Homo sapiens: one gene and its partner. The protein of the gene in region 1 purifies or fractionates together with the protein of each later gene. This does not show direct contact. Each region holds a gene or a part of one and is shown in the gene's direction. Other genes may lie near its edges.

Evidence for each region. Proteins that work in one complex are often made in the same cells at the same time.
Region 2: the proteins of IL1F10 (region 1) and ISCA1 purify together in Homo sapiens (affinity purification with mass spectrometry; one large-scale study listed by BioGRID and IntAct). This does not show direct contact.

What each region holds. Positions count from the first base shown.
Region 1 is NC_000002.12:113,066,714-113,070,769, forward strand, and holds the start of IL1F10 (interleukin-1 family member 10), read left to right. Parts: upstream 1-1,256; 5' UTR 1,257-1,303; intron 1,304-4,056. UniProt on the Homo sapiens protein: Cytokine with immunomodulatory activity. Alone, does not induce cytokine production, but reduces IL22 and IL17A production by T-cells in response to heat-killed Candida albicans. Reduces IL36G-induced production of IL8 by peripheral blood mononuclear cells.
Region 2 is NC_000009.12:86,269,039-86,272,538, reverse strand, and holds part of ISCA1 (iron-sulfur cluster assembly 1 homolog, mitochondrial precursor), read left to right. Parts: intron 1-426; coding exon 427-532; intron 533-3,500. UniProt on the Homo sapiens protein: Involved in the maturation of mitochondrial 4Fe-4S proteins functioning late in the iron-sulfur cluster assembly pathway. Probably involved in the binding of an intermediate of Fe/S cluster assembly.

The sequences.
Region 1 (4,056 bases):
CTCAGCTAGACTGTGAAACTACTTAACAACAAGGACTGTGTATTGAATGTCTGTGTCACACAGCAGTGTAAATGCTGGGTAAACACTCATTGGTTGCCTGACATAGTAACTCATGCTTTAAGCCTTCCCATAGAAGGGTGAGAGATTGGGAGAGTGGAAGAAGAATGATCACTGGCCTTAGAAAGCAGAAATCTGGTCCCATTTCTGCCCATCTTTTCTCATTTCTCATCCTGCAGGCATCTGAGTCTTAGACCCACCTATCCCACTTCCTCAAGAAGCCCTTGGTGGAACTTTGCAAATGACCAAAGAGGGAGAATTATAATAAGGTTGTTAGTTTCCAGAGAACATTACACCTAAGCTTCTCCACGCTTGTAATGGAGGGATGGATGGATGGATGGATGGATGGATGGATGAATGGATGGATGAAAGGGTGGACAGAAGGGTGGATGGATGGGCACATGGGTGGATGGATGGTTGGATGGATGATGGATGGATGGAAGAATGGACAGATGGGTAGATAGATGGACAGATGGGTGGCCGGGTGGATGGATGGATGGATGGACTGAGTCAAGTAATGTCAATTAGAGACCTGAGTGTTCTTTCCTCTGTGCTCTACTCACACTATCATATTTCCTAGCAGTCCATGGCACATGATGTCTGCTCAGTCTCAGGGTGAATCTGAGGTCAATATCTTTGCAGTTGGGTTTCCCTAGATGTTCTGTCCCATCAAGCTGGTACCAACTAATTAAACCCACTGAAAAGCAGAGACTCCCTTCTCGTCTTTCCAAACAGAGTCACACTCACAGTGCTATCAGCCCCTTCTCTTATTCTGGCTGTCTGGCCACAGCCTGGATTCCGGCATCAGAATTTGTTCTGTCCTTGGGCTTGCCAGACATACTTTCTCTTGTATTCACCACCTCTTCAAGCCTAGGATGGAGCCCCACGGGGCACCAAAGATGTCTGACCCCAGCACTGTTTATCTGGCTGCAAACCCACTAATAACATAGTCAACGACAGTCAGTACAGAGCAGGGGCCCCATACCTTATTTCTGCCAAGGCTTTATGGATGACTCTCTCCCCCTTCAACAAATGCTCCTTAATGTTCCCACCATCTTATTATTCATGCTGTACCAAAGACATTGTGAAATGCCCAGGCTCTTCTTCCTTCATGTCCTGCAGCCAATTATAGAGATTGGTGCAGGCCTGACCCACCTGTACCAGACGGTATAAACACAGCGCAATGCCCTGGAGAAATCAGTTGGAGTCTCCAGGGATCAGGGTTCCAGGAACTCAGGATCTGCAGGTCAGTGATGGACAGGCAATATTCTCTCTCTCTTTTCTTTCTTTTCTACTCTCTCCTGTCAATATCTCTGGTATGCCCTCTATCCCTTCACTCCTCCTGGCAAGCTGTCTAGGTAACAAGGTAGTCCCCTCATATGACATGATGGGACATCAAAAACATTTAGGAGCACATAAAGAGATTTGAGGAGAAGGAATAGGTTAAGCCAAATCAAGATTTCTGAACTACTTAGAACAACTGACTTTAGAAAGTAATCTCAAAAGAAACCATCTGGGCCAATGGTATTCAAACCGTGTTTGGTGGAAGCTTAAGAGATTTTTTGTTTTCGTTTTTTTTTTTTTTGTGCTCCTTGGTAGCTCCTCAGTGTCTTCTTTGTAGGCAAGAGAAATACTAGCAGGGTTCCAAAGTCTCCATTGCTTCCTGTGTCAGCAAAGCAGCTGCCCTTTATCCTTTTTACAATCATTAGAATTCTGCATAAAATTTTATTGTGAAACTTAAAACAGTTTTGAAAGATACCTTACTCAATCTTTCCATCCAATGTTGATAAGTTGAAGGCCCAGGGATAAAAGGTGGCAAAATAAATTGGTAGCAGAGCTAGGTCTAGGACTCAGCCTTTCTATTCAAAGTCTGCTCTGTGTGTTTCTATGTCCTGGCCACAAGGACCAGGGTAGTTCAATTAGGGTGGTTGGAGAGAGCTTCAAGTGAGCTGTAAGCCATGCTTCATGACTTCAAGATCTTATAAACTTTTATAAGGGAAACAAATATCTTTATGTACAACAATAAATAATACAGTAAAATTTAATAGGAGTTCAGAGTAGAGTTACAATAGTAAGGGAAAGATTCATTAAACTCTGAGTCATGGAATTATAAATAGTTTGGCCTAGAAAGAACCTTCATAACCACATAATCTAATCCCATGAATGTATAGTGCTGAAACTGAGGGTTGGAGGTTAAAAGACATAACCCTGTATGTCTAAGCTGTAACTCTACACTGGTAATTAATTTGATAGAACTAGATACTGAACCCATCTATACTGATACTATCTCCAGTGATCTTAATATCAAAAGATCTGAATGGATGACAATGAGAAGGGATGACTTTTGAGGCAGGGAGAACAATGGGACACCTGTGAGTACGTCCACTGAGAAGATAAGAAAGGAATTATGTCGCCAGGAGGTGTGGTTTAGTGTCCATGGAGAAGTGAGATGCTATCACACAAGAAAATCAGTGCCAGACGGTGACAAAACAGTCAGTCACTGTAGATTCTAGAGCTGGGCAGGGATGTGGTGAAAAAAATCTTTAGAACGTGGGTCCACATTCCTCACATAGGTTGGAATGAATGAAAGGCAGAAAAACCGGGAATACAAGTACAGTAGTAATGGCAATTAAAAACACAAAGTTATATTTTAAAGAAATAACCTGTAGGGACTTGATAAGTTAGACACTGAGTCAGGAGAAGTAGGAGATATTGTCAATGAGTCTCAGGTTTTGAATATCACTGGTGAGAGGAATATTATGACAGTGAGAGAAATGAAATTGGGAGGAATGTGTGGGCTGGGAGGAGAAGATAATTAACTTAACCTTAAATATATTTGGTTGGATATCAGCAGGATGTCCAAAGTGGGCTGTCCTGTAGGCTGCAGGAGGTAAAGTGGGATGTGCAGTCTACATTTGGGAGCCATTAGCCCAAGATAATCATTGCAGCTGTAGAAGTCAATGAATTGCAGCTTAATATGATGTGAAATAGAAGTGCTTAGGACCTTGTTAGCCTTAGGGGTGGCCCCAGAAGGAGGTGAAATCTACAGTGGGAGAAAGAGGTGTGAAGGGAGTCATTCAATGTCAAGGGTTCCAAGGAGGCAATGACTAAATATCAAAGGAATCAAAAGAATCTCTGGATCTTGCTCCACAGAAGTTAATATTGGTCTTGGACAGAACATCCCACATAGATACTGTGCAGGAGAATGATGAAGGATAGGACAGGGTGCTGTGCAAAAGAACATGGGGAAAGCCCAAGTTTAGCTGATGGCAGTGTTTGAGCCAGGACAGGTGAATTGCGGAGGTCTGAGAGCCAGATGCCATGTCCAGGGAGAAATGAGAGGAAGAAAAGAGGGATATAGACTGAAGTTCAGTGAAAAGTCATTTGAGGAAAATAGGGAGGGGAAGCTTTGGGGGTGAGGCATGTGGCACACTGGGAGGGGCTTGGCACACAGCAGAGGTTCAGCACCAAGACCCAGGCTCTCTGATGGACCAGACGCTAGCTTCCTACCCTTACTCACTTCATCACAATCTATCAGAACCCAGGCGGAGGGAGCCGAATAGGGGAGCCTTTGGGAAAGACACTGTACATTTTGGCTGTGCCAGAATGGGAGGTTTCTAGGGCCCATGGGATCCAGCTGGACTGGACCAGCATTGAATTTCTTCCAGCTCTTTGAGCTGACACTGACCCAGAGTGGGAGTCATCAGCTTGCTATCCACCTTCACCCAGGGCCCTCCACTTTGTTGCCCCACCTAGATCTGGGCACAGCTACCACACTGCCCACTGTCCTGCTGCTACAACCAAAGAAGCCCCAGTGGTTTGGCCAAGGGGAGCCCATCATCAAGTGGGCTTGCATTGAGGCCATGATGCTGTTGAGTTATCTGTACTGGGGGATTGTCTAGTCCTTTAGGACTCAAAGTGCTGGCCAGGAGGAACCAGCAGCATTGACATCACCTGGTTGCATATTTGAAATGTACAGTCTCAGGCCCCACCCCAGGC
Region 2 (3,500 bases), on another chromosome or scaffold:
TCTGTATTGACTGCAGTCTTTTGCTTTCTGGTATTTGAGACTGTACACAAGTCTGCACTATAATTCAGATCCCATGTAGAGGTAGGATTGCCAGATGGTGGACTATGAACCCTGGTGAATCCTAACCATAAGGAAACATTCAGAGGATATCTCACAGAACAAGGTAGAGCAAAGACATTTTAAATAAAGTCCCAGGCTGGACGGGGTGGCTCCTGCCTTGTAATCCCAATGCTTTGAGAGGCCGAGGTGGAAGCGTTATTTGAGTCCACGAGTTTGAGACCAGTCTGGGCTACATAGTGAGACCCTGTCCTACAAAAAATAAGAGAAAGTCCATTTTGGTACGAGGAGGCTACTGTCACTTTATTAGTATAATTGTTTAATCTGTACTACTTTAAAACCAAGTTTATATTTTCACTTCTTTTTCAGGTAGGTGTAAAAGTTGGTGTCCGAACCAGGGGCTGTAATGGCCTTTCTTATACTCTAGAATATACAAAGACAAAAGGAGATTCTGATGAAGAAGTTATTCAAGATGGTGAGTTTTTAACAAACATTTTTTGGGCACATTGTTTTGCCTAAAATTATTAGCCTTGCACAGCACAAAGTAAAAAATAAGGATAGTAGCAGGAATTATGTAAATAATGCTCACTGTGTGTGTAGGTGTTGTTTGATGGAATTTCATGTATTAACTGATTTATACACAATGCTGAATGTGGGTGGTACCATATTATCCCTGTTTTTCTGATGAAGAAACTGAGGCACAGAGGGGTTAAATAGTTTAAGGTCATAATAAGTGGCCTAGTAAAATTCTTTCCAGAGACTGCTCTTAGTAACTAATTGATAAATTATTATATAAGCTTGTTTTAACTATGAAAGATCATCGTTGTGTCCAAAAAGTGAACCAGCCTTAAACCTCACAGTGAACCAACAGTTTTTGTGTAAGCAGTAGTTTTATATCTGTGTCAAATAAGTACGAGTTGAGCATTCCAATCCAAAAATCTGAAATCTGAAATGCTCCCAAATTCAAAACTTTAAAAGTGGGTGCTGACATGACACTCAGAGGAAATGCTCATTGGAGCTTTTTGGATTTGGGATGCTCAAGCAGTAAGTATAATGCAGATACAGTCATACATCACTTAACATTGGAGATACATTCTGAGAAATGTGACGTTAGACAAATATCCTGGGGTGTACTTAGACAAACCTAGACGGTCTGAGAAATGTGACATTGGACAAATATCCTGGGGTGTACTTACACAAACCTAGATGGTAGAGCCTACCATATGCCTCAGCTAGATAATATAACCTGTTGCTCCTAGGCTACAAACCTGTACTGCACGTGACTGTGCTGAATACTGTGCACAGTTCTGACACAATGGTAAGTATTTGTGTAAACGTACCTAAACAAAGAAAAAGTATAGTGAAATTTCTTTTATTATTATTATTATTATTATACTTTAAGTTTTAGGGTACATGTGCACAATGTGCAGCTTAGTTACATATGTATACATGTGCCATGCTGGTGTGCTGCACCCATTAACTCATCATTTAGCATTAGGTATATCTCCTAATGCTATCCCTCCCCCCTCCCCCCGCCCCACAACAGTCCCCAGAGTGTGATGTTCCCTTCCTGTGTCCATGTGTTCTCATTGTTCAATTCCCATCTATGAGTGAGAACATGTGGTGTTTGGTTTTTTGTCCTTGCGATAGTTTACTGAGAATGATGATTTCCAATTTCATCCATGTCCCTACAAAGGACATGAACTCATCATTTTTTATGGCTGCATAGTATTCCATGGTGTATATGTGCCACATTTTCTTAATCCAGTCTATCACTGTTGGACATTTGGGTTGGTTCCAAGTCTTTGCTATTGTGAATAGTGCCACAGTAAACATACGTGTGCATGTGTCTTTATAGCAGCATGATTTGTAGTCCTTTGGGTATATACCCAGTAATGGGATGGCTGGGTCAAATGGTATTTCTAGTTCTAGATCCCTGAGGAATCGCCACACTGACTTCCACAATGGTTGAACTAGTTTACAGTCCCACCACCAGTGTAAAAGTGTTCCTATTTCTCCACATCCTCTCCAGCACCTGTTGTTTCCTGACTTTTTAATGATTGCCATTCTAACTGGTGTGAGATGGTATCTCATTGTGGTTTTGATTTGCATTTCTCTGATGGCCAGTGATGACGAGCATTTTTTCATGTGTCTTTTGGCTGCATAAATGTCTTCTTTTGAGAAGTGTCTGTTCATGTCCTTTGCCCACTTTTTGATGGGGTTGTTTGTTTTTTTCTTGTAAATTTGTTTGAGTTCATTGTAGATTCTGGATATTAGCCCTTTGTCAGATGAGTAGGTTGTGAAAATTTTCTCCCATTTTGTAGGTTGCCTGTTCACTCTGATGGTAGTTTCTTTTGCTGTGCAGAAGCTCTTTAGTTTAATTAGATCCCATTTGTCAATTTTGGCTTCTGTTGCCATTGCTTTTGGTGTTTTAGACATGAAGTCCTTTCCCATGCCTATGTCCTGAATGGTAATGCCTAGGTTTTCTTCTAGGGTTTTTATGGTTTTAGGTCTAACGTTTAAGTCTTTAATCCATCTTGAATTAATTTTGGTATAAGGTGTAAGGAAGGGATCCACTTTCAGCTTTCTGCATATGGCTAGCCAGTTTTCCCAGCACCATTTATTAAATAGAGAATCCTTTCCCCATTGCTTGTTTTTGTCAGGTTTGTCAAAGATCAGATAGTTGTAGATATGCGGCGTTATTTCTGAGGGCTCTGTTCTGTTCCATTGATCTATATCTCTGTTTTGGTACCAGTACCATGCTGTTTTGGTTACTGTAGCCTTGTAGTATAGTTTGAAGTCAAGTAGCGTGATGCCTCCAGCTTTGTTCTTTTGGCTTAGGATTGACTTGGCGATGCGGGTTTTTTTTTTGGTTCCATATGAACTTTAAAGTAGTTTTTTCCAATTCTGTGAAGAAAGTCATTGGTAGCTTGATGGGGATGGCATTGAATCTATAAATTACCTTGGGCAGTATGGCCATTTTCACGATATTGATTCTTCCTACCCATGAGCATGGAATGTTCTTCCATTTGTTTGTATCCTTTTTTATTTCATTGAGCAGTGGTTTGTAGTTCTCCTTGAAGAGGTCCTTCACGTCCTTTTTAAGTTGGATTCCTAAGTATTTTATTCTCTTTGAAGCAATTGTGAATGGGAGTTCACTCATGATTTGACTCTCTGTTTGTCTGTTATTGGTGTATAAGAATGCTTGTGATTTTTGTGCATTGATTTTGTATCCTGAGACTTTGCTGAAGTTGCTTATCAGCTTAAGAAAATTTTGTAAAAGATCAAATGTGGTCGGGTGTGTTAACACAAGCCTGTTGTCCCAGCTACTCAGGAGACTGAGGCAGGAGGATTCCTTGAGTGTAGGAGTTCAAGAATGTAGTGCACTGGCCAGGCGTGGTGGCTCACCTGTGTAATCCCAGCACTTTGGGAGGCCGAGGTGG